7 linked regions of the Homo sapiens genome follow. The protein of the gene in region 5 purifies or fractionates together with the protein of the main gene of each other region. This does not show direct contact. Each region holds a gene or a part of one and is shown on either strand. Other genes may lie near its edges. The genes, in order: CPT1A, ACAA2, CRY1, STK40, SLC12A8, DAGLB and ANKRD27.

What was found.
Region 1: the proteins of SLC12A8 (region 5) and CPT1A purify together in Homo sapiens (affinity purification with mass spectrometry; one large-scale study listed by BioGRID and IntAct). This does not show direct contact.
Region 2: the proteins of SLC12A8 (region 5) and ACAA2 purify together in Homo sapiens (affinity purification with mass spectrometry; one large-scale study listed by BioGRID and IntAct). This does not show direct contact.
Region 3: the proteins of SLC12A8 (region 5) and CRY1 purify together in Homo sapiens (co-immunoprecipitation; one large-scale study listed by IntAct). This does not show direct contact.
Region 4: the proteins of SLC12A8 (region 5) and STK40 purify together in Homo sapiens (affinity purification with mass spectrometry; one large-scale study listed by BioGRID and IntAct). This does not show direct contact.
Region 6: the proteins of SLC12A8 (region 5) and DAGLB purify together in Homo sapiens (affinity purification with mass spectrometry; one large-scale study listed by BioGRID and IntAct). This does not show direct contact.
Region 7: the proteins of SLC12A8 (region 5) and ANKRD27 purify together in Homo sapiens (affinity purification with mass spectrometry; one large-scale study listed by BioGRID and IntAct). This does not show direct contact.

What each region holds. Positions count from the first base shown.
Region 1 is NC_000011.10:68,831,917-68,835,416, forward strand, and holds part of CPT1A (carnitine O-palmitoyltransferase 1, liver isoform), read right to left. Parts: intron 1-3,500. UniProt on the Homo sapiens protein: Catalyzes the transfer of the acyl group of long-chain fatty acid-CoA conjugates onto carnitine, an essential step for the mitochondrial uptake of long-chain fatty acids and their subsequent beta-oxidation in the mitochondrion.
Region 2 is NC_000018.10:49,793,034-49,796,533, forward strand, and holds part of ACAA2 (3-ketoacyl-CoA thiolase, mitochondrial), read right to left. Parts: intron 2,849-3,500; coding exon 2,732-2,848; intron 1,395-2,731; coding exon 1,247-1,394; intron 1-1,246. UniProt on the Homo sapiens protein: In the production of energy from fats, this is one of the enzymes that catalyzes the last step of the mitochondrial beta-oxidation pathway, an aerobic process breaking down fatty acids into acetyl-CoA.
Region 3 is NC_000012.12:107,083,550-107,087,049, forward strand, and holds part of CRY1 (cryptochrome-1), read right to left. Parts: intron 1-3,500.
Region 4 is NC_000001.11:36,375,925-36,379,424, forward strand, and holds part of STK40 (serine/threonine-protein kinase 40), read right to left. Parts: intron 1-3,500. UniProt on the Homo sapiens protein: May be a negative regulator of NF-kappa-B and p53-mediated gene transcription.
Region 5 is NC_000003.12:125,087,249-125,090,748, forward strand, and holds part of SLC12A8 (solute carrier family 12 member 8), read right to left. Parts: intron 1,123-3,500; coding exon 1,062-1,122; intron 1-1,061. UniProt on the Homo sapiens protein: Cation/chloride cotransporter that may play a role in the control of keratinocyte proliferation.
Region 6 is NC_000007.14:6,430,955-6,434,454, reverse strand, and holds part of DAGLB (diacylglycerol lipase-beta), read left to right. Parts: intron 1-1,495; coding exon 1,496-1,618; intron 1,619-3,500.
Region 7 is NC_000019.10:32,637,181-32,640,680, forward strand, and holds part of ANKRD27 (ankyrin repeat domain-containing protein 27), read right to left. Parts: intron 3,206-3,500; coding exon 3,127-3,205; intron 2,309-3,126; coding exon 2,176-2,308; intron 1-2,175. UniProt on the Homo sapiens protein: May be a guanine exchange factor (GEF) for Rab21, Rab32 and Rab38 and regulate endosome dynamics.

The sequences.
Region 1 (3,500 bases), on a different chromosome or scaffold from region 5:
GCCACTGTGCCCGACCCAGAACATTCTTTTTACCAAACCCTTTGGCATATGCTAGACAATGTGACCCATATATATTTTTATATTGATGTATTTGACTAGCATTAGATCATTTAATTCCCACTAGCACCCTAGGAAATGGGTACTAGGGCTATCTCCATGTACTAATGAGAAAACCAGGGCTTAGATGTCAAGAAACTTGCCCAGTGTCACAGCCAGCAAATAGCAGGGCTGGAAATCAAACCCAGGCCCAGGCCAGGTGCGGTGGCTCACGCCTCTAATCCCAGCACTTTGGCAGGCCAAGGCGGACAGATCACCTGAGCTCAAGAGTTCGAGACCAGCCTGACCAATATGGTGAAACCCTGTCTCTACTAAAAATACAAAAAATTAGCTGGGCTTGGTGGCATGCACCCGTAGTCCCAGATACTAGGGAAACTGAGACAGGAGAATTTCTTGAACCTGGCAGGTGGAGGTTGCAGTGAGCCAAGATTGCACCACTGCACTCCAGCCTGGGTGACAGAGCGAGACTCTGTCTCAAAAACAAACAAACAAACAAACAAACAAACAAAAACCCAGGTCCAACTCCAAAACTTATACTCTTAACTCCCAAAGTAAAGTGGTAGGTACTACACAAAAAGTTCTACTTAGGATTCCTAAAGTTACAACACAGATATAAAATTAGGTCACTGTTGTAACCAAAATGATGAGATTGCAGCCAGCAATAAAACTCCAGTAAGTATAAACACCATCAGTGCCAACTGTAAAATTATTCACATGCTGCAGTCTTCCCACTAGCATTGCACAGTGCCCATGCACACAGGAGCAGGCTCTGCTTTCTATTCAAACCTAGCTAACAGCTGCCCATCTCCTCCAGCGGTAAACAACTATGTTGGAAATCCTCTGAGAAAATGTTACCCATGGGAAGCGACAGCTTAGCTCAGCAGGAATACCAGGCAGGGCCTCTAGGAACAGAGAAAGTGTGAGGCTGGATGACATGGGCCTCATCCCTGGAAAAACTGGAGAAGGCGCTGTAGGCAGGGTCAGAAGCAGTGTCTCTGGCGAAGGGCAGGGCAGTTATCTCATCATCTACAACACATTCTTGGATGCCCGGGTGACCAATGCCTGGGAAGATTCTGCTTCGCTAGAAAGCTAGTGCCAGCCTCCGGGACTGGCTCCAGCTCGGGGAAACCACCTTCACAACATGCATGATGTCCAAGGTGGCAAAAATCTGGCCTGGCCTCCTCACTGCTGCCCAAAGAACTTCAAGGGAAGTACCAGGAAGGCTCTGGAAGGACAGCAGCAGCCCAGGGGGTTCCCTAGAACTAGCACACATGTGCAGTAAAGTTCATGGCTCTTCTGAACTGAGATGCAGGCAAAAATTAGCAATAATGGGAAGGAAGAAAAGCAGCAGCTCCTCTTCTCCAGGCAAGTGTGGGTGTGCGCTCTCTGCACTGTATGAGCCACATCGTTATTCAATTGCAGATATGCACATCTGTAATGGTGCCCTTGTACTTTTCCAGTAAATGTGTATACACACAAACAGAAGTTGTTTCCCAAACTTGGCTGGGCGTGTTGGCTCACGCCTGTAATCCCAGCACTTTGGGAGGCCAAGGTGGGCGGATCACCTGAGGCCAGGAGTTCAAAACCAGCCTGGCCAACATGGTGAAACCCCATCTCTACTAAAAATACAAAACATTAGCTGGGTGTGGTGGTGGGCACCTGTAGCAGGAGAATTGCTTGAACCTGGTTGGTGGAGGTTGCAGTGAGCCAAGGTCCCACCACCGCACTCCAGCCTGGGCAACAAGAGCGAAACTCCATCTCAAAAAAGAAAAAAAAAAAGAAATTGTTTCCCAAACCTGATGGAAGCACCTTAGAAGTGAGAATGTAAGACTCACCTTATGTTTTTCGGAGGGTTTCATGTACAAGAAAGGTGAAGGATTTTCATTATTATTTTTTTTTTATAAGACAGGGTCTTGTTCTGTTGCCGAGCGTGACCTTGAACTCCTGGCTCAAGAGATCATCTTGCCTCAGCCTAAGCTGGGACTACAGGTGTGCTCCACTACACCCAGCCTGGAGCTTTCATTATGAAAGGTTGCGTCTTGAATTCATGACTGATCATTCAATATTCACATTATTTAAATTGGCCACACAGTGGATTTCCTGTACTGAAGTTTATCATAATGGACTATTCACATTTATGGGGTCAATATAATGGGTCGTCAGGTTATAAAAGGAATTCTGGGCTGGGCACGGTGGCTCATGCCTATAATCCCAGCACTTTGGGAGGCTGAGGCGTGTGGATCACCTGAGGTCAGGAGTTCAAGACCAGCCTGGCCAACGTGGCAAAACCTCATCTCTAGTAAAAATACAAAAATTAGCCAGGTGTGGTGGTGGGCACTTGTAATCCAGCTATTCGGGAGGCTGAGGCAGGAGAATCGCTTGAACCCGGGAGGCAGAGGTTGCAGTGAGCCGAGATCATGCCACTGCACCCCAGCCTGGGTGACAGAGGGAGACTTCGTCTCAAAAAATAAAAATAATAAAATAAAAGGAATTCTGGACTGGGTATGGTGGCTCATGCCTGTAATCCCAATACTTTGGCAGGCGAAGGCAGGAAGTTCGCTTGAGCCCAGGTATTTGAGACCAATCTGGGCAATGTAGCAAGACCCCATCTCTACAAAAAATACAAAAATTAGCCAAGGTGTGGGTAGTGCATGCCTGTGGTCCCAGCTACTTGCGAGTATCACTCGAGCCCAGGAGTTTGAGGTTATAGTGAGCTATGATCACGCCACTGCACTCTAGCCTGGATGACAGAGCGAGACCCTGTCTTACCAAGTACTGTAAAAATTAAGCCAATTCTGGGTGGATCACTTGAGGTCAGGAGTTTGAGACCAGCCTGGCCAACATGATGAAACCCTGTCTCTACTAACAAACAAAAACTACCTGGGCATGGTGGTGCATGCCTGTAATCTCAGCTACTCGGGAGGCTGAGGCAGGAGAATTGCTTGAACTGGGGAGGCGGAGGTTGCAGTGAGCCATGATTGCGCCACTGCACTCCAGCCCGGGCGATAGGGCGAGACTCCATCTCAAAAAAAAAAAAATTAAGCCAATTCAAATTTAGACCTTATAGTGCACCACGTCAATAAGTAATGGTTAGATAAATACAGACAAATATGATCTTAGAAAAAAAATTTGGAAAAGCCACAAAGATTCACAATTTTATAAAGAAGATAGCCAACGTATTGACAGACCCAGTTATCTGACCTAGCTATTCAGAAGCCCACCAGAAGTTTAACAGCTGCTACTTCTTTCCCACTGTGCCTGCCCTGCCTCTAGCCAGCATCGGCACTCGGGCAGGAGCTCAGACTGCAAGGAGGAGACCTGCACCTGCCCAAAGGACATCCTAAACCTCCTCTTCGTACCAGTATATTGTTCCCACAAATGTCCCTAAGACAACAGGAGCGGTGTCCCCTGTATCTCCCATGCATATTCTTCACCTTTGCACA
Region 2 (3,500 bases), on a different chromosome or scaffold from region 5:
TAGATGTAATGGCAATAAATGGACTTAATACCCCTTTTAAACTTCTTTTGGTGAGATAAGCAATTAAAAAGTTACCAAGTTGTCTATGCCACAAAGTAATCTAACTGAAACTTAATAGTGATAGGCAACCTGAAGAAATTATGGGAGCAATCACTAATACAATTATAAGTAAAACATCTTACCTACTTTGACCTCCACTGACTAGAATGTACTGTAGTAATCTATAGCTTTGGAAATAGGGTCAGGAATAATACTAACCTTAATTTTCATATCACTTTACAATTGGCAAAATACTTTCCTTATATGCCCTTATTTGGTTTTAAAACAACCTTATTAGATAAATAGGGAAGGCAAATATTGTTATCTCTATCTTACAGAGGTTCAGTGAATAAATGATATGACTGAGCTTGATAACTTGTGCGTGGTAGAAGTAGAAACAGAACTGATAACTCTTGACTTCTAGACCAATCCTCTTCCACTATGAACATATAAGTAAAAAAACACACGAGTTAGATGGCATCAGCTCTATTCCACTTATCCTTCTGAAATGCTAAGATGGACTTTATCCTCATTACTTCAAGCATTTAATATTCCTAAATAAGAGTTTCCACTTGCTTTAACAGTTTAATTTTTTAAATATCACATTTCTTCAACTTGCTGCACTGCTAAAAGAACTGCTGTCACATTTGCCTGTTTTGGACCGGCTCTATAGCAACCTGCTGTGCTACACCAGGGCACTCTAACTAGAGTCTCGGACTAGTTCTAAGTCTCTGAGTTAGGTACAATGATTCTTAATTAGGAGTGGCAGAAGGAAAGCATAAAAGACCCAGTGGGTCTTTTCCAAATACATTACCCCTTCTTATGATTATGATATGGCTTGTGGGAGAGGACATCCTCTATATTCCAGTTGCCACAGTGAGCTATCACCTCTGACAGAACGTATCGTATTCCTCATCATGTTCTACTGACAACAGGACCAGTTCAGCACAAAACTCAAGGGTCCATCTAGGGTCAAGTAGCAATACCACTTTTTAAGTAGTACTAACTTTTTCAAAAGAGAAATTCCTAGTTAATTTTGCAATAATTAATAAAATATCTGATCATCTAAAGACAAAGGAATAATGAAAAGATGTAATAATTCTTAAAGGTATGATTTGTAAATATTATATAACCATAATAGAAATGATGAAAATATTTCCTATAGATATTTATTCTATAGATACTGATACTTTCCAGTTTCACTCACCAGCTTTCCATCTCTGCTGTGACTGCAGGGCATATTTGTCACATTCTTCTCTGCTTATTTTGTGTTTTACAGCAAGATTCTCTGCAGTCATTGCCATGGGGAGCTGGACATGCTGATCTGTTAATGATACCCATAAAGAATCTTCCAGCTATTAAAAGACATTAATAAAGTGACTTGTTAAGGCATTTCCTTTTAAAAGTAATATGTTATAATTTCTTTAAATAATCAACACTTCCAATAAACAAAAGTAAAATTAAGACTTTCTGATAACCACTATTCATATTCAGTTATGGGATATTTTTTAAAAACATGCAATGTTTTTGAAAACATTCAATGTCACAAAATAAAATGCACACATTCTCTGTCCCTCTCTAAATGTGGGGGTCTAAGAACAGCTAACAGGACTAGACGTGCATGGTGAGATCACAGAAGTTACCCTACGATCAAAAATTAAATCCTCAAGGTCATATTTTGTAGAAAACCTGACAATGAGTCTTCATGCAATGTTTTCTTATAGCCATCTTTGTAAACCAGCCCTGAGCTCTGTAATAAACAGTATTATCTGTTTTTCTTTTTCATCCTGCGCCTCAGTGACAGGAATAGCTGGTTCTATCGGTTACTATGAGGCTGAAAAGATCTTGGGACAGGTTCCCAGAGTTACAGAAAGGTTGTTAATTATTATTCAAGTAGTTAGTCTCTGGTAAGTGTGCCCCACTTTGCTGCCTCATCAACATTTAACTCACTGACCTGTCTTCATAAAAGATATCTCAAATGTGTTTGGTGGCTAAAATCCGCATAGATTCTCTTAAGTCCCATTCCTTTCAACTTCCAAAAAGGCCAGGTGAGAAACTGGGTGAACAGTGTGAGTCAAACATTACTATAGAAAATGCTAAAAAATATAAAATGTCAGTAGCCCTTTCACATGGGAATGAGAAGAAAACATCATTCTTTATCAGTACTGTACCATCATTCTCAAGTTGTAGCTCTCAAAGATAAAAGAATCAGTTTTTGTTTGATTTGGGACAATATAATCTGTATTCAAAGATGTTTTCTGTGATGATGAAGAAATCTATTCTGAGACTGTCCCAGAAATAAAACTTCTATAAGTCACGTTAAAGATTTAATTACTCAGATTACTAATTGTTTAGTAGTGAGATTAATTCACTCTTTTGTCTATCTTTTTAATCCACTTCTTCCCTTCCTCCATCTCTCCCATGCCTATGGCCACTTACACAGGATAATTATACTACTAGAGGTCTGCTGAGATAGATAGAATCTAATTTCATATGGGTTAAAATGTCAAAACTAACCACCAAAATAGAGTTTTGAAATAGTTTACAAACTTCTAATCATTCATATCTTGCCAATCCTCATCAACGAAATTGGCTTCAAAATTAGTTTTCTCTCCCATAAAAAGGTATGTTATTAAAAGTACTTATATAATGCTAATAAGAACTAATTCTTTTAAATTTTTATGGTTCCAACCTTGATATCTGATCCAAGCTTGGTTCCAAAACGCACATTTCTGACACAGTAGGGAGCTTGGCTCATGCTTTCGGTTCCTCCACATAAAACAACTTCAGCTTCTTTAACACAAATTTCCTATTTAAAAACAAACAGTAATAAAAACTCCTTTTACCGTACCCAAACAATGTATTAAGAAACACACTGATTTTACAAATTAATGGTAAATCAAACAAATATTGTACTGTAGCTTACAGTGTCTCAAAAGGAAATGCTTTTAAAGTAACTGTAAAGCAAATGCTAAAGTATCCATTACCAAGATGTAGGAGGAGAAAACTAAAAGGTTTCAATCATGTTTGCCTGAGTAACAGGCCCTACCTACATGTGGCTAAGAATAGTAATTCTTAACACAATATAAATCTTGAAAATCAACAGATATTAATACCTGGCATAAATGTACAGCAGATAATAAAGGACATACCCTTTAAAAAGGCAAAAGAAAAATTTATCCCATTAATGGATGTATCTGAACAAGAACAGAGATTTACAAGAACTAGTTCAATCTAGGTGACTCATAAAAAGGAAACCACTTCATTCTTCCAACACTTTCCACTGTTTGCCTTTCTCAGAAAAGGAGCAAATAATGAGCCTCTATGAACCTGATGGTTCTTAAAATTATTACTAGGAAAACCGAGGTCACTATTTAAGATATATCGTTATAGAAACAAATTAATGTGAAAATTGTTTTATTAAAATACGCCTCTGGCTCTTATTTTGTTTGTAATAAAAT
Region 3 (3,500 bases), on a different chromosome or scaffold from region 5:
TAAATGTAATCCATCATATAAACAGAACCAATGACAAAAACCACACAATTATCTCAATAGATGCAGAAAAGGCCTTGGACAAAATTCAACACCGCTTCATGCTAAAAACTCTCAATAAACTAGGTATTGATGGAACGTTACTCAGAATAATAAGAGCTATTTATGACAAACCCATAGCCAATATCATACTGAATGGGCAAAAGCTGGAAGCATTCCCATTGAAAACTGGCACAAAACAAGGATGCCCTCTCTCACCACTCCTATTCAACATAGTATTGGAAATTCTGGCCAGGGCAATCAGGCAAGAGAAAGAAATAAAGGGTATTCAAATAGAAAGAAAGTCAAATTGTCTTTGTTTGCAGATGACATGATTGTATATTTAGAAAATTCCATTGCCTCAGCCCCAAAACTCCTTAAGCTGATAAGCAACTTCAGCAAAGTCTCGGGATACAAAATCAATCAGCAAAAATCACAAGCATTCCTATACACCAATAATAGAGAGTCAAGTCACGAATGAACTCCCATTCACAACTGCTACAAAGAAAATAAAATACCTAGGAATCCAACTTACAAGGGATGTGAAGGACCTCTTCAAGGAGAACTACAAACCACTGCTCAAAGAAATAAGAGAGGACACAAACAAATGGAAAAACATTCCATGCTCATGGATAGGAAGAATCAGCATCATGAAAATGGCCATACTGCCCAAAGTAATTAATAGATTCAATGCTATTCCCATCAAGTTACCATTGACTTTCTTCACAGAACTAGAAACAACTACTTTAAATTTCATATGGAACCAAAAAAAGAGCCTGTATAGCCAAGACAATCCTAAGCAAAAAGAACAAAGCTGGAAGCATCATGCTACCTGACTTCAAACTATACTACAAGGCTACAGTAACCAAAATAGCATGGTACTGGTACCAAAACAGATACATAGACCAGTGGAACAGAACAGAGGCCTCAGAAATAACACCACACACCTACAACCATCTGATCTTGACAAAAACAAGAAATGGGGAAAGGATTCCCTATTTAATAAATGGTGCTGGGAAAACTGGCTAGCCATATGCAGAAAACTGAAACTGGACCCCTTCCTTACACTGTATACAAAAATTCACTCAAGACGAATTAAAGACTTACATGTAAAACCTAAAACCATAAAAACCCTAGAAGAAAACCTAGGCAATACCATTCAGGACATAGGCATGGGCAAAGACTTCATGACTAAAACACCAAAAGCAATGGCAACAAAAGCCAAACTTGACAAATGGGATCTAATTAAACTAAAGAGTTTCTGCACAGTGAAAGAAACCATCATCAGAGTGAACAGACAACCTATAGAATGGGAGAAAATTTTTGCAATCTATCCATCTGACAAAGGTCTAATATCTAAAATCTACAAGGAACTTAAACAAATTTACAAAAAAAAAAAAACCCATCAAAAAGTGGGTGAAGGATATGAACAGACACTTCTCAAAAGACATTTATGTGGCCAAAAAACATGAAAAAAAAGCTCATCATCACTGGTCATTAGAGAAATGCAAATCAAAACCACAATGAGATACCATTTCATGCCAGTTAGAACAGCGATTATTAAAAGTCAGGAAACAACAGATGCTGGAGAGGATGTGAAGAAATAGGAACGCTTTTACACTGTTGGTGGGAGTGTAAATTAGGTCAACCATTATGGAAGACAGTGTGGTGATTCCTCAAGGATCTACAAACAGAAATATCATTTGACCCAGCAATCCCATTACTGGGTATATACCCAAAGGATTATAAATCATTCTACTATAATGACACAGGCACATGTATGTTTATTGTGGCACTGTTCACAATAGCAAAGACTTGGAACCAACCCAAATGCCCATCAATGATAGACTGGATAAAGAAAATCTGGCACATATACACTGTGGAATATGAAGCAGCCATAAAAAAGAATGAGTTCATGTCCTTTGCAGGGACATGGATGAAGCTGGAAAGCATCATTCTCAGCAAACTAACATAGGAACAGAAAACCAAACATCGCATGTTCTCCATAAGTAGGAGTTGAACAATGAGAACACATGGACACGGGGAGGGGAACAGCACATACCGGGGCCTGCCAGGGGTTGAGGGGCAAGGGGATGGAGACCATTAGGACAAATACCTAATGCATGTGGGGCTTAAAACCTAGATGACAGGTTGATGGGTGCAGCAAAACCACCATGGCACATGTATACCTACGTAACAAACCTGCAGGTTCTGTACATGTATCCCAGAACTTAAAGTATTAAAAAAAAAGCAAAAACTAAAGCTGCTTACAAGAGCTTAGAGAACTCAAAACAAAACAAAACAAAAACAAAAAACCTCATACACAAGAAAAACTTTAAAACTTTTTAGAGACTGGTTAAGAGGTTGTGATAAAAATGCTGATTAAAATATAGACAGTAAAGGCCACGTTCATGAGATCTCAAATAAAATTTTTAAAAACTAAAACAAAAAAATGGCCACATTATATGTTATGCTTGTTAACAAAAAACTTGGCTACATTGTATCCATGCCTAGGACTTTGTAAAAGGCTGAACTTAAGAGTAATGACTTAAGCTACCTGGCAAAAAAAAGTTTCTAAACAACAAAGCGTTCAAAAGGTGACATGGCTGCTTCTAACAGCCTACTATCAGATATGGGAGTTCAAAAAAAAGACAAAGTTAAAGCTAATAATTAAGAGAAAAACAGAGCATACAAATTTGAAAAATTTACAACCTAACCATGTGGTAGAGGGAAGTTTTCAGGAGAGAAATCCAAACTACCTAGCCCCAGGTACCAGGCCCTGACAGAACAGGTTGTTAAAGCAATTAACATGAATAAAAGAGAGCCAGTTGTTAACAGTCAAGACAATGGGGAAAAGCCCCCAAGACATTCCAGAAATCAAGGCTACCCCTTCCATCACAGGCTCAGAGGCCTCCTCGGGCAAAATGGTTTGGGAGGCCAGGCCCAGGGTGTTGCTGCCTTGTGCGGTCTTGAGATGCTACTCCCCACGTTCTGGCTGCTCTGGCTGCAGCCAGGGCTCAAAAGGCCCCAGGTACTGTCTGGACTGCCACTCCAGTGGGTGCAAACCATAGGCCTTGATGGTTTCCAAGTGGTGTTAAGTCTGCAGGTATACAGAATACAAGATCCATGGAGGTTTGGCAGCTTCCACCTAGATTTCACAAGATATGTCAAGAAGTCTGGCTGTCCAGGCAGAAGCCTGCCACAGCAGAGCTCCTACAGAGAGATTCTACTAGGCTGGTGCCAAGGGGAAATATGGGGTTACAGTCCCCACAGAGAACTCACTGTAGAGCAGCGGGAACAGGGGCACTGCCCTCCAGGACCCACAGTGGTGGCAGTCTAACTAAAGCCAAGAGAAGAAGAGAAAGGTGTGGTCAAATGTGTTAAATACTGTTAAGAAAAAGAAAAAGAAAGAAACAAAGAAAGAAAGAAAAAGAAAGAAAGGAAAAGAAAAGAGAAAAGAAAAA
Region 4 (3,500 bases), on a different chromosome or scaffold from region 5:
GGCAGGAGAATCATTTGAACCCCAGAGGCGTAGGCTGCAGTGCGCTGAGATCGCGCCATTGCACTCCAGCCTGGGCAACAAGAGCAAAACTCCATCTCAAAAAAAAAAAAAAATTCACGACTTTGACAGCGAGCAATACAATTCACTTTCTGAAGTTTGACTGAATGTTGAGGGCTATGGCTGCTCAGAGGGGCAACAGGCTGCCTGGTATGATTAGAAAAGCCAAGAGCAGGCGATCCCTTCAGAGTGCCCCTCTGTTGGCTTCACCTGCTCTGAATCACCAAGAGCTGGACACGGCAGATCACGAGGGCCAGCAGCCACCAGTGAAAGACTATGTCCATGCATTGAGGGCGTGTTCATTACCTGTCTGCTTATATGTAGGTCTCGAGAAGGGTCTGGTCCACCTCAGGCCTCCCAGGCTCTGCACAAGCCCAGAAGGTATGCAGAAAAAAGGTGTGAAACCATAGCCAACAAAGAAAAAGAAAATGTACCTGCCTTGGGCCCAGCAATGCCAGTTCCGGGGATGGATCCTGCAGATATACTCACACAGGTTCACAAAGATAATGTGCTCAACAAAAGTCCCTATAGAGCCACGTGTAGCAGCAAAAAACAAAACCATAAAAATCAACACACACACACACATGCCCCCAAGGCAGGAAACTATCTAAATGGCCATCCAGAGAGGACTGGTTAACTAATTATGTTCAGCTAGACAATGGATACTATGCAGCCTTTCCGACTAGGTCCACACCTGCTGATAAAGATGTCTATGTTACCAAAATAAGCACACTGCAGGAATATATGTACAACATAATCCTACTTGGGTTAAAAAAGATTATACACACTTTTGAATACGCATAGGCAACTTCTAGAAGAAATTTTTTTTTTTTTTTTTGAGATGGAGTGCAGTGGTACAATCTCGGCTCATTGTAACTATCACCTCCCCGGTTCAAGCAATACTCTGCCTCAGCCTCCCGAGTAGCTGGGATTATAGGTGCTCACCACCACACCTGGCTTTTTGTATTTTTAGTAGAGACGGGGTTTCACCATCTTGGCTAGGCTGGTCTTGAACTCCTAACCTCATGATCCACTCGCCTCGGCCTCCCAAAGTGCTGGGATTACTGGCATGAGCCACCGTGCCCAGCCTAGAAGAAATTTAAGTGGACACCTCCAGTCAATAGAACTAAGGGCCCAAGGAGGGGAGGGAGAGCTTTATTTTATATTCTCCCATATTATTTAACTATTGTACCATAAACTATTAAACTAACAATACTTTTTTAAAATCTAAAGATTTTCTGAACCCATTAGAATTATTAAGAGTAGTAGTGGAGCCAGGCGTGGTGGCTCACGCCTGTAATCCCAGCACTTTGGGAGGCTGAGGTGGCATATCATGAGGTCAGGAGTTCAAGACCAGCCTGGCCAACATGGTAAAACCCCATCTCTACTAAAAATACAAAAATTAGCCGGGTGTGGTGGCACTCGCCTGTAGTCCCAGCTACTCGGGAGGCTGAGGCAGGAGAATTGCTTGAACCTGGGAGGCGGAGGTTGCAGTGAGCCAAGACCATGCCATTGCACTCCAGCCTGGGCAACAGAGTGAGACTCCGTCTCAAAAAAAAAAAAAAAAAAAAAAAAAGTAGTAGTGGAATCAGGGGAGGCTGAGCCTCAGAGAAGGCAGACTTGAGAGAGTATGGCCTGGGAAGAGGTGTAAGCATAAGTGCCCTGGATGTGTGAGCTTGTGTGCCAATGCAATGGTGCAGCAAAAGAGTGAGAGGCAGAAGGACAAAGACAACACCCCTGCAGCTCTCCAGATAGGCTGCAAACATGCCTATAAGGAACTTCCTGCCTGCCCCCTGGCATCCATAAGGGCTGAAAACTGGCTCAGGATGCCTCTTTTGGTACACTCACAGGTTCACTGCCAAGAGCTCACCTGGGCCTTGCTGGAGCTGGCCCCTGGGTCCTGCCTGCCTGCCATGCACTAGGCTGAACGTGGTAGAGGCTATAAAGCCCTGTGTCTCATGACTACCTTAAGGGCAAGAATTGTTATGCCCATTTTACAGAGGAGGAAGCTGGGGTTGGAGACAGGAAGTGACTTGTTCAAGGTCACTCACTTCAGGTTCTGAAGCCACATCTGATCTGAGCCTAGGCCCTTAACTGCATGGTTGCAAGTCTCCTTGCCCACTACCCATAGGGCAGGTCAGGGAGGGACCTGTCTCAAGGCAGTGGCAGTTTCCATTTTTCAGGCAAAAAAAGGGACTGGTTCAGCTTTGGGGCTGGCTCTATGAGTCCAAGATTCTATGTGGGCTGGACTCCCTGGGACCAGAGCCTAGCCAGGATGGAGGAAGGGAACATGGGCTTTAGAGTCACACAAATGTGAGTTGGAAATCCCAGCTCTGCCCTTACTGGCTGTGTAATAGTAGACAGTCTTTTTACCCCGCTCTGAGCCTGAGTGTTCTCTGTAAAATAAGAGACAACCCTTACTTCCTTAGATTCAATAACGTATTGCAGTATTACAAAGGACCTGGGAGGTGGTGGGGCTTTTTTTCTTTTTTTTTTGAGACGGAGTCTTGCTCTGTCACCAGGCTGGAGTGCAGTGACACGATCTTGGCTCACTGCAACCTCCGCCTCCTGGGTTCAAGCGATTCTCCTGCCTCAGCCTCCTGAGTAGCTGGGACTACAGCCGTGCGCCACCACGCCTGGCTAATTTTTTGTATTTTAGTAGAGATGTGGTTTCACCATGTTGGCCAGGATGGTCTCGATCTCCTGAACTCGTGATCTGCCCGCCTCGGCCTCCCGAAGTGTTGAGATTACAGGCGTGAGCCACCGTGCCAGCCGGGCCTCCTTTTTTTGCTGGTTTCCTTCCTGTTTTTTCAGAAGGGACCACTCCAGGAGTCAGAAAAGAACACACACTATGAAACTTACCCCAAACTCAGTAATGCTGGAAGCGCCATACTTATTGCAAAAAGTAGCAGGACTCTTGCTCCCCAGGGTTGGCAGATGCCAGCAACAGGATTCCAAAAGCCCCACGGAATGCTGGGCTACACCAGGCCCAAGGTCCCCAAGGCGCTGAACCGAGCTTCTCCCTAGAAGCACTGCTGTCCCCTCAACACACCTCACATCAGCTCTGCCCCAGAGAGAAATGACAAGCACATCAGTCCTGCTCTTGCCAATTCCCACTACAATGACCAGTCCACTCTCTCTTCCTTCTGGACCCTTGCATCCAGACTTCCTAAAGGCTGAAGATCTTCTATCTCTTTTGCCAAGTAGGTGGCAGTGTGTAAACATATTTAGAGGGGACAGCTTTATTCTGCATGCCAAGACCCCTTCTCAGTTTTTCTACCTCTGGTGCTTTCCAACAACTAGAGTTCCTTTGAAACCGTCAGGCCTGTAGACTGCTAAGTTCTGGGGAGCCTGAACTCACACCCAAGACTGACTGTCATGGCCAGGAGAGAATGAACACCGTTGGGTTGTAGCCTCTTTTTTTTTTTTTTTTGAAACGGAGT
Region 5 (3,500 bases):
TGCCCAACTAATTTTTGTAGTTTTAGTAGAGATGGGGTTTCACTATGTTAGCCAGGCTGGTCTTGAACTCCTGACCTCAGGTGATCTGCCCACCTTGGCCTCCCAAAGTGCTGAGATTACAGGCGTAAGCCACCACGCCCAGCCCTATTTTACCATAATTTTTAAAATGAGGAGAAAAAAGGATTATGAAGTTACATCTGGGATCAATGGGAAAGGATCCCATGATCCACTAGCAATGTCTGAACATGCAGGGTGGAAATATTAGCAAGTACAACCCGGACATCTAGAGTCTCAAAAACAAACCAACAAAATGCAACCAAATGAACACTCGGTTGGGTTCTGCCTGGATTTTCCTAGCCTGCAGCTCTAGCTCCTCACTGATATTGAAAGGGGACAGAGGGTGGGTGTAATTCCCCAGAATCCCAGGGCCTTAAAAGGTAAGAAGCAGTGATACTGCAAGAGTGGAGGAGAAGGAGTGAGATTAGGGCACATGTGAAATATACCCTCTCTATGAGGCTTCTATTTCTCAGGAAAGTTTTTTTTCTCCTTTCCTGTATATCTGACCATAGAGGTCCCACAGAAATCCTCCAGGATCTCCACTTTATTTCTATACTTGGCCTCTGCACTGTCCCCAACCCAGTCATGTCAACTACCTCTGACTCAGATGGAAGAATGTGCTTCCTGGCGTTACATTTCCCTTGGGCTTTAATCTTGTGTGTGATTATGCATTGATGTGAATGTGTCTTAGACTGTAAACTCACTGAGAGTAGTGACTTATCACCCCAGCAACCAGATTCTAAATAAAGCCTCTGTTCTTGATGACTGAGGATAAGAAGGGAAGAGGACATGAGCCTAGAGGAAGCTTCTGATGAGCCGAATCTGGGGGCCGAGTGTGGTGGAGTGCACGCAGGAGCAACATCTGAGTCTCCCGGAGGTGCCCAGTTGTTAGGTTCCCATGCCACAATCCAGGCCCAAGCCCAGCCAGGAATGGGACACCCTTGGCACCTCCCAGGACTCTGGACACTCATCCATTCTGGTACTGGCTCCAAATTGGCACAGACCTGCAGGAGGGGAGCAAGAGAGACCTCATCCACCGGAAAAAGCTGAAGTTGGAGGCTGATCCTGCAGGGAAGACATATACATAACCATTTTTGAAGGTTCTACATAAGGCATCTAGAAGCTCAGTTTTAATAGGGTGAATGCAAACCCCAATACACACACACGCACAGAATTAACACAAATGTTTTCCTTTTTCAGTCTAAACAAATAATTTTCATTGTAATCTTCCATGACAGCAGCCTACTAAGGACTTTTACTCATGTGAATCCTTCAAAAGTTTATTTCCAAACTCCAAAATCACTCCCAAAAAACTGGATAAAGTGCTATAAAGACAAATGCAGAGACTTGCTAACTTTAGTCTTAAGAATTAAAAAACTTTGATAAATTTTTTAAGATTCATACTGACAAGTGTTGAATACACGCCATAAAATTTTCTACTAGACCATACACTGAGAATTGGGAACATGTCTTTTTCATCCTTATAATCATCACAGTACCTCACAGGATCTGGCACTTAAGAATTTTTTTAACAGGTGTTAAGTGAATCAAATAGTTCCACATGTAGAAATGTTAGAGCTGAAGTTTGAAGTGACATTGTTGTTGATTCTAGCCAAATAATCCTGACATCAAACACACAGATTTGAATAGGGTTTATCAATTGAAAAAAATCCATTCCTCCTTTGGTGTAGGTTTAAAAAAATTCACATAGTAAATTATATATAACTTTAGAGAAACAAATCAAATGTGATTTTAGAAAATGCTTTCCTAAATTATACATACATATGATTGAAAATTGATTGATTAGATAATGTTCAATATATGATCAGGAAAATAGCATTATTTTAAGAGGCTTATGTTAAAATCTCCACAAATATCAACAGTATGCAGCTGATAACCTGTTTCCTCAATATCATTTAGGCCCTTATGGCTAAAGGGAAGATAAATTTTAGATCTGCATTTGCAATTGCAAAGAGAAGATTTCTAATACATTTTGAGATTGTCAGAAGGAAGAAAATAAACATATTTTATTAACTCACCCTACTTAAGTGTGATAATTTAGATTCTAAATTATTTGAATTTTAGATGGACATTGGCCTGAAATTTGATTTCATGTTTTCCTATGAATAGATTTCTAGGAAATAATTGAAATTTCTTAAGATCAAACTACTTTTTAAGAAATAAAGAAGCAATCACTGAAGTAATCACTGTTAATTAAAATATATTCTATCCATGAAGTCAGCTAACATAAGGACCTCTTCTTAACATTACTGTTTTCTAAATCATTATTTTTAATACACACGACTTAAAATGTTTGAAGTGCATTTCTTTCAAAGTGTTTGAAGTGCATCAGACTATTCTAATTCTGAAGAACCTTTTTCTCTTTTTTTTTTTTTTTTGTGAGTCGGAGTCTCACTCTGTTGCCCAGGCTGGAGTGCAATGGCTTGATCTCGGCTCACTGCAACCTCTGCCTACTGGGCTCTTACTTTGGGTTTAATTTGCTCTTCTTTTTCTAGTTTCTTAAGTTGGATGTTGGGATCACTGATTTGCAAATGATCTTCTTTTCTAACGTAAGCATTTGATGCTATAAATTTTCCTTAGCTACATCCCACAATTTTGCTGTTCCATTTTCACCTTTATTCAGTTCAAAATACTTTGTAATTTCACTCTGCTTTCTTCTTTGAATCATGGATTATTTATTTTCTGTATTTTAATTAGGGTTATGTAATATTCTTTAGTTTCTAAATATTTGGGGATTTTCTTTTCTTTTTTTAATTTTTAATTTAGGAGACAGAGTCTTGTTATTTTGCCCAGGCTGGCCTCAAACTCCTGGCCTCAAGCAATTCTCCTGCCTTAGCCCTCCAAGTAGCTAAGACAACAGGTGTGTGCGAACTGTGCCTGGCTTATTCAAGGATTTTCTGATATCTTTCTGTTATTTATTTCTAATTATTCCCCCTCTGGTCAGAGAGCATACTCTGTTCTTGAATTGACTTGAATACTTTTAAATTTATTGAAATATTTTTTATGTACTAGAATATAGTCTCTCCTGGTAAATGTTTCATGTATAATTGAAAAGAACATATATTCTGCTGTTTTGGGGTAGAATGTTCTCTAACTGTCAATTAAGCCAGGTTTGTTGATAGTGTTATTCAAGTCTTCTGTAGACTTACTGATTGTATACTTATTTATCAATTATTAGGAAGGAGGTATTGAAATCTCTGACTATGGTTGTGAACTTTTCTATTTCTTCCTGTAGTTCTATCAGGTTTTGGTTTGTGTATTTCAAAGCTGTGTTTTTAAGTGCATAAATGTTAAGCTTTGTTATGTCTTCCTGATGTATTTTTCCCTTCAGCTTCATGAAATCACCCTCTTTATCACTGTAATATTCTTTTCTCCAAACTCTACTTTGCCTAATGTTAATATAGCTACCCTGCTTTGTTTTT
Region 6 (3,500 bases), on a different chromosome or scaffold from region 5:
TTTGCAGCTGCTGTTGAGCAGATACCAAGCACAGGCAGTGGCATGAATCGAGGTTGGAATCAGATAGTGAGTGACTTCTTACCACTTTGTATCATGATGGAAATGATCGACGATGCTACTTTTGGAAGACAGTTTGAATAGATGATTGCAGCACAGAAGGGAGCGTCATTCTAGAGCGAGTTCTTCCGCAATTTGAAAATGCTTGTTTTTTTTTTTTCACATGCAGCGTGTCATCTTTTTATATGACATTCTCTGCTAAATGCTGTTAAATTCCATACTGAGATGAGGTAAGGGAGGAAGAGTTCTCTGCTTATCCTGCACACCTGCCAGTCTCTCTTCCCACCTCTGTGCTATCCGACTTGGCACCATTCAGGGCTGGTCCTGGAGCCTGACACCAAGTCATAGCAGCAGCCTCCGTAGAGGGAAGAGGGAAGCGTGTCCCCTCAGTAACTTAAAGAAGTGCTTAAACCTAGTCTTAAGATATCTGGAAGAGGGAAGAAGAGAAGCTGGTTATTTCTAGAGGATGTCGTAATCTACATCACAGGCAGAACTGATGGCTCAGTGGCTGAGTGGCCAGTATATTGTCTTTTTTTTTTTTTTTTTGAGACAAGGTCTCGTTTTGTCACCCGGGCTGGAGTGCAGTGGCGCCATCTTGGCACAACCTCCACCTCCTGTGTTCGAGAGATTCTCCTGCCTCAGCGTACTGAGTAGCTAGAGTACTACAATAGCTGGGATGACAGGCACCTGCCACCACGCCCAGCTAATTTTTGTATTTATAGTAGAGACAGGGTTTCACCATGTTGGCCAGGCTGGTCTCGAACTTCTGACCTCAGGTGATCCGCCCACCTCGGCCTCCCAAAGTGCTGGGATTACAGGCGTGAGTCATCGCACCTGGCAGTATATTGTCCATTCTTACGGGCTACAAGTACCCGGAGGTGATTGAGAATTCCTAATTCCTCCATTTCCTGGAGAAAAAGGACATGTCAGGCCTAAGAAGACTCACTCTCTGTTGCTTTCCCAGCTTGGGGTCCTTTATGAGGCTTGCCATACCCTGTGAGTATGAGTTTAGTCTCATAAATCTCTACCATCCACTGTGTTTCAACAAAACCTTCCCAGCATCTTGAGAAATGAGAGTATAAACGTGGGCTAAAATGGTGCATTGCTACAAAAACGGACAATTTATCCATTGATTTCTCCACTTTACAAAATATTTGAAGTAGATTAAAAATAGTTGAGTCACATGAAGTGAAATTTTAAGACAGACGAATAGCATTTTTATATTCTCCAGTGGACTTGTCTGAGGGCAGGATGTGAAAACATATTCAGGTCACATAGAGAAGCACTCCTGCCAGGAGCAGTCTTTTTAACATACCTCTGTGTCTAGAAATGTCTGTGTGTGCGTGAATGCCTATCAACTATAGAAGACTGGATTTTAGGGAACCCGGGGGTGGTGCCTGCTGGGTTTTATGACAGGCCATTGTGGTTTCCCACCCAGGACACAGATCTGGTGCCCAGCGACATTGCGGCGGGCCTCGCCCTGCTTCATCAGCAACAGGACAATATCAGGAACAACCAAGAGCCTGCCCAGGTGGTCTGCCATGCCCCAGGGAGCTCCCAGGTGAGCCTGGCTTCATGGAGTGTCCAGTTCTGACACTTACACCTTTTGGTGGGTCTTCAGAATCATACAGCTAACCTATAGCAATTTCTTCCTCCCTTCCTTCATTCCCCTTTCCCCTCCCTCCCCTCCCCCTCCTCCCCTTCCCTCCCCTCTCCCACCTTTTTTTTTTTTTTTTTTAAGACGGAGTCTCGCTCTGTCGCCCAGGCTGGAGTGCAGTGGCACAATCGCGGCTTACTGCAAGTTCTGCCTCCCAGGTTCACACCATTCTCCTGCCCCAGCCTCCTGAGTAGCTGGGACTACAGGCGCCTGCCACCACACCTGGCTAATTTTTTTTCTTATTTTTAGTAGAGACGGGGTTTCACCGTGTTAGCCAGGATGGTCTCCATCTCTTCACCTCATGATCTGCCCACCTCAGCCTCCCAAAGTGCTGGGATTACAGGCGTGAGCCACCGTGCCCAGCCTCCCCTCCCCTTTTTTTCTTTTTCTTTTTATGAGATGGAGTTTTGCTCTTGTTGCTCGGGCTGGAGTGCAATGACACAATTGGCTCACCACAACTTCCACCTCCCGGGTGATTCTCCTGCCTCAGCCTCCTGAGTAGCTGGGATTACAGGCGCATACCATCACACTCAGCTAATTTTTTGTATTTTTAGTAGAGATGGGGTTTTGCCATGTTGGCCAGGCTGGTCTCAAACTCATGACCTCAGGTAATCTGCCTGCCTCGGCTTCCCAGAGTGCTGGGATTACAGGCATGAGCCACCACACCGGGCCTATTTTTCATTTTTTTAACTTTTATTTTAGGTTCAGGGGTACATGAGCAGGGTTGTTACACCGGTAAACTCATGTCACGAAGGTTTGTTGTACAGATTATTTTGTCACCCAGGTACTAAGCCTAGGACCCTACAGCAGTTTCATTAGCAGCAGGGTTGGAATCTGATTGGCGGCTTCCACTGGTTGTATTGCATCACCTGTCAGGTGAGGCATCTTCGTTATCAACTGGAGTTCAGGTAGTGGGAACCCATTCCTGGCCACTTTATCATCCATCATATCTTTATTTTTTATTTTATTTTTTGAGACAGAGTCTCTGTCACCCAGGCTGGAGTGCAATGGCATGATCTTGGCTCACTGCACCCTCTGTCTCCTGACTTCAAGCAATTCTCCTGCCTCAGCCTCCACAGTAGCTGGGACTACAGGCGTGCACCACCATGCCCAGCTAATTTTTGTATTTTTAGCAGAGACGGGGTTTCACCGTGTTGGCCAGGCTGTTCTCAAACTCTTAGCCTCAAGTGATTTGCCGGCCTTGGCCCCCCAAAGTGCTGGGATTACAGGCGTGAGCCACTGCATCCGGCCACATTTATCATATCTTTGAAGGCTTATGTTTTAGGAAATTTGCTGTTCAATTCTATGCATTAGAACAATTCCTCCTGGGATGGGGACTGCGATTCTCCCTGGGTGTGTTTGCTTTCTTCTCTGGGGCTGGGGGCAGAAGCAGTTCAGCTTTGCTTGGTGATAATTTTCCTGCCACAGGTTGTTATGTTTTTGAGAAAGAAAATTGCACGTAGACGGTATGTATCTTCGCTGCTCCGGGTTAAGCCACTCAGTTCTTGACAGCTCGTGTGTGGCAGTGGCATGGAAATGTACTAGTTTCAGGCATCTAGATAGGAAGCGCCGGCTCATTTCAGCAAAAACAGCAGAGAAGTCATTGGAGTGTTTTTTACTGTTAACTTCCCCGTGCTTGCTGTGTTCCTATAAAATGAGGAGTCAGGCTGGGCGTGGTGGCTCACGCCTGGCTTCCCAGCACTTTGGGAGGCCAAGGCAGGTTGATCACCTGAGGTCGGGAGTTCGAGACCAGCCTGGCCAACATGGTGAAACCCCGTCTCTACTA
Region 7 (3,500 bases), on a different chromosome or scaffold from region 5:
GTCTCCCAGACGCTTTAGCTCATCATTATTTTGGGAGATTCTACATCAAAGTCTGACAAAGATGAATGTTCAATCCTTGGCACTCTCACCTTATAATACAGAGATCTTTTCATTTTATAGATTTCAACTTTGTGATTTCTGTATGATCACATTTTACTCATTGGTATGTAGTAAAACAGGCCAGCAGGACAACCATGGTTCAAGATTCTCACGATTCACATAGAAATATAATCACATCCCCTCGCCGACCCCAGCCAATGCTCAATAAAAACCAAGGAAACAATGGCAAGGCCACTGAGTCCTCAAATTGCACACATTAATGGTCTCACAGATGGCAGTGGCAGCCCATCGGGAGTGGCTGCTGCAAAGACGTAAGCTGCAGTGGAGGAAGCGCGGCCAGGTTTGTGCACTCTGCAGGGCCAACAGGAGCCAGGAACAGGCAGGAGCCCCCATCTCCTACTGAGCTGGCAGGGCGGGAGCCCTGCACTCCCAGGCGCAGCTGCAGCCGCCCAGCCGCAGCTCTGGATCCAGGAATCTCTGCACTCTCAGGGGCCCAGGAAGCATCCCTGCCGCCGCAGGCTCGTAAGTGCCTGCTCCCGCTCCTCCCCACTCCTGGCACCGACTTCAATTTCAGAGCAAAGCTGAGGCCAAGCCCGGGTACTGTTGCAACCCAGCCATGTGTGCACATGCTTGGTGTGACACTGACACACCAGCCTCCTGATGCCTCAGACCCCTCCAAGATTTTGGGCGCTGATGAGCATGGGAGAGTAGTCAAGGTAGGGGCTGAGGGCAGCTCAGTGCAGGCCTGCAGATGCCCCTTGGCACAAACAGCCTGGATGCACTGGCCAGCATGTTGATGGTGGCAGAAGGCAGACACGCTTCTGGGTGGAAAGGTGCAGGTGCCCAGTGAAGCCCCACCTTCAAGACAGGGACAGCCTAAAGCCTGGGGGCCGGGCTGTCAGTCCCAAGTGGAGTCCACGACCCAGACTGAGAACTCATGGTGCTTTCTCCAGGCCCACCTATGGACCAATCAGCACATACTCCCTCCCTTCTGAGCCATAAAAAACCCCGGACTCAGCCAGACTCAGACAGATGTCGGGACTACCAACTGCAGGAAGGAGCTACCTACGTCAGGCCTCTTTAACTCGTCAGGACGACCTGCCTGTGGAAAGAAGCTGCCCACTGTGGGTCTCCTGAGAGCTATTCTGCCGTTCAGTAAAGCTCCTCTCTGCCTTGCTCACCCTCCACTAGTCTACGTACCTCATTCTTCCTCGACATGGGACAAGAACTCGGGACCCACCAAATGGCAGGACTGAAAGAGCTGTAACATAAAGAGAGCTAAAACATGCTCCCGACTCACTACATTGCAGGTGACGAGAGGAGAGAAGAGCTCTGGCCCTTCAGGGAGCCCAACCTAGGAGTTCCCCGAGCCAGGGCTATGACACCCTCTTTGGGGCTCTGCAGTTCCTGGTGTCTCCAAGCTTCCAGGCCCCACTGTGTTCCCCAGTGCCCACCGTGGAAGCGGCCTACAGTACGCCTGCTCTAGCTGCAGCCTTGCATGGAGCAGGACCCTGTACAAGCAACTTGGAGCTGCCCACCCCACCTCAGTCGGCACACCTGGTTGTGTGCAGTGGCCAGACCCTGCACTTGCTCACATACCCCTCGCCACTCCACACCTGGCTCGCCCTTGGCAGGCATGGGATCCAGGCCAGTAGCACAAGCCGAGCGCAGCCTGCCAGGCCAAGAGCGTGAAATGAGCCCAGCAGGCCCGAACAAAACTCAGGCAAAGGAGCCACCAGCCACAGAGGTTTCCGGCTGGAAAAGCGACAGTCCAGGGATCCCGTGACATCACTTCTTGACTATCAAGGTCAAGAAATCCAAATTCCCTACTTCTGGCTTCCCTTTGCACCCACATGTCTTTGGAGAGGATGGGGACTAATGAAGTAGGATATTAACAATGTAAATCCCAATGATAACCCACCAATTTTTACCACCAATTGAGGGCTTGGTGTTCTCTTCACTGAGTGATTTTTAAGACTCACAGCCCTCAAACAGCTGAGGCCCCATTCCTGGGAGGCAATTTAAGAATCCGTCTGCCCACATACCAACCCCAGCACCCTATCAAGGGAACCATGATGCCCACAAAGGAAGGCCAGGGCAGGGGTGAGATCTTACAGGGGGTTTAGCAGAGAGGCTTCCTTGCCGAATATATTCAATGGCAGCTTCGAATGAGGTCAGGCAGTATCCCAGTTCATCCTTTGCCAAGCTGCTAAACCTGAAGTTTTTGATGTAACTCAAATTTGCCATCCTAATGAAAGGAAGAAAAAAGTTATGTTGTTGTCTATCCAAGTCACACTTCTGCAAAAAAAATATCATTGGCTTGGGCAACTGATCAAATATCTAGTCAGTTGGTTCGCTCAGGAAGCTACGACCACCATCCCCTGGATCTCTCTGCAGAGTGTGTGCGATTAGGAACACAAGTAAAATGACTAGCTAGTTCCCTGAAATAGTCTTTAGCAAGCTGATTACCGTAAACTGAGCTGTGGGTTCCAGGGGAGAGATTATGGGTTTTGGGGCCAGAAAGAATGGCAATCAGCTTTCTGCTCAACCACTGTCTAGACACTCATTCCAGAACAAGAAATGTAAGCTCTCCGGGCCTTGGTTTCCCCATCTGTAAGTGGATGGATGAAGCAAGGGGAGGCCCCACACCTAGCTCGTAACAGGTGTCCAATTGAAGATGGGCTTTTCCTAGAGTTACATTAGAACTACCACAGTGCAGTGCTGCCATTTTTTTTTTTTGAGACGGAGTCTCGCTATGTCGCCCAGGCTGGAGTGCGGTGGCGCGATTTCAGCTCACTGCAAGCTCCGCCTCCTGGGTTCACGCCATTCTCCTGCCTCAGCCTCCTGAGTAGCTGGGACTACAGGTGCCCACCACCATGCCCAGCTAATTTTTTTGTATTTTTTAGTAGAGACGGGGTTTCACCGTGTTAGCCAGGATGGTCTCGATCTCCTGACCTCGTGATCCGCCCGCCTTGGCCTCCCAAAGTGCTGGGATTACAGGCGTGAGCCACCGTGCCCGGCCAAGCACTGCCATTTTCAAAAGAGTATCTTAAAAGAAAATGTTACCAATTAGGGATCTCCGTTTTCACAAGCAAGTATAACAGGACTGATAGCAGATCATCAGCACACATGGTCTCCAGGTTCACTGCAAAGGGGAAACACACATTCAATGCCATCATGAGATTCAAATGGACTGACAAGCATATCAACTCCCTACCACCGCACACCTTGTGAAACCACGTATCAGGGAGATCATACACTGGGGGAGAAATGTCATTGCACAAGCTCCTTTACAGCGTCCTGATCAGATGTCAGGTCCAGGGGGAAAAGAATGCCCAGCAATTTCAGAACATGACCAAAACAAGGTATTAGTAACTCTAGCCAGATACGGCAGCACGTGCCTGTAATCCCAGTGCTTTGGGAGGCCGAGACGGGAGAAT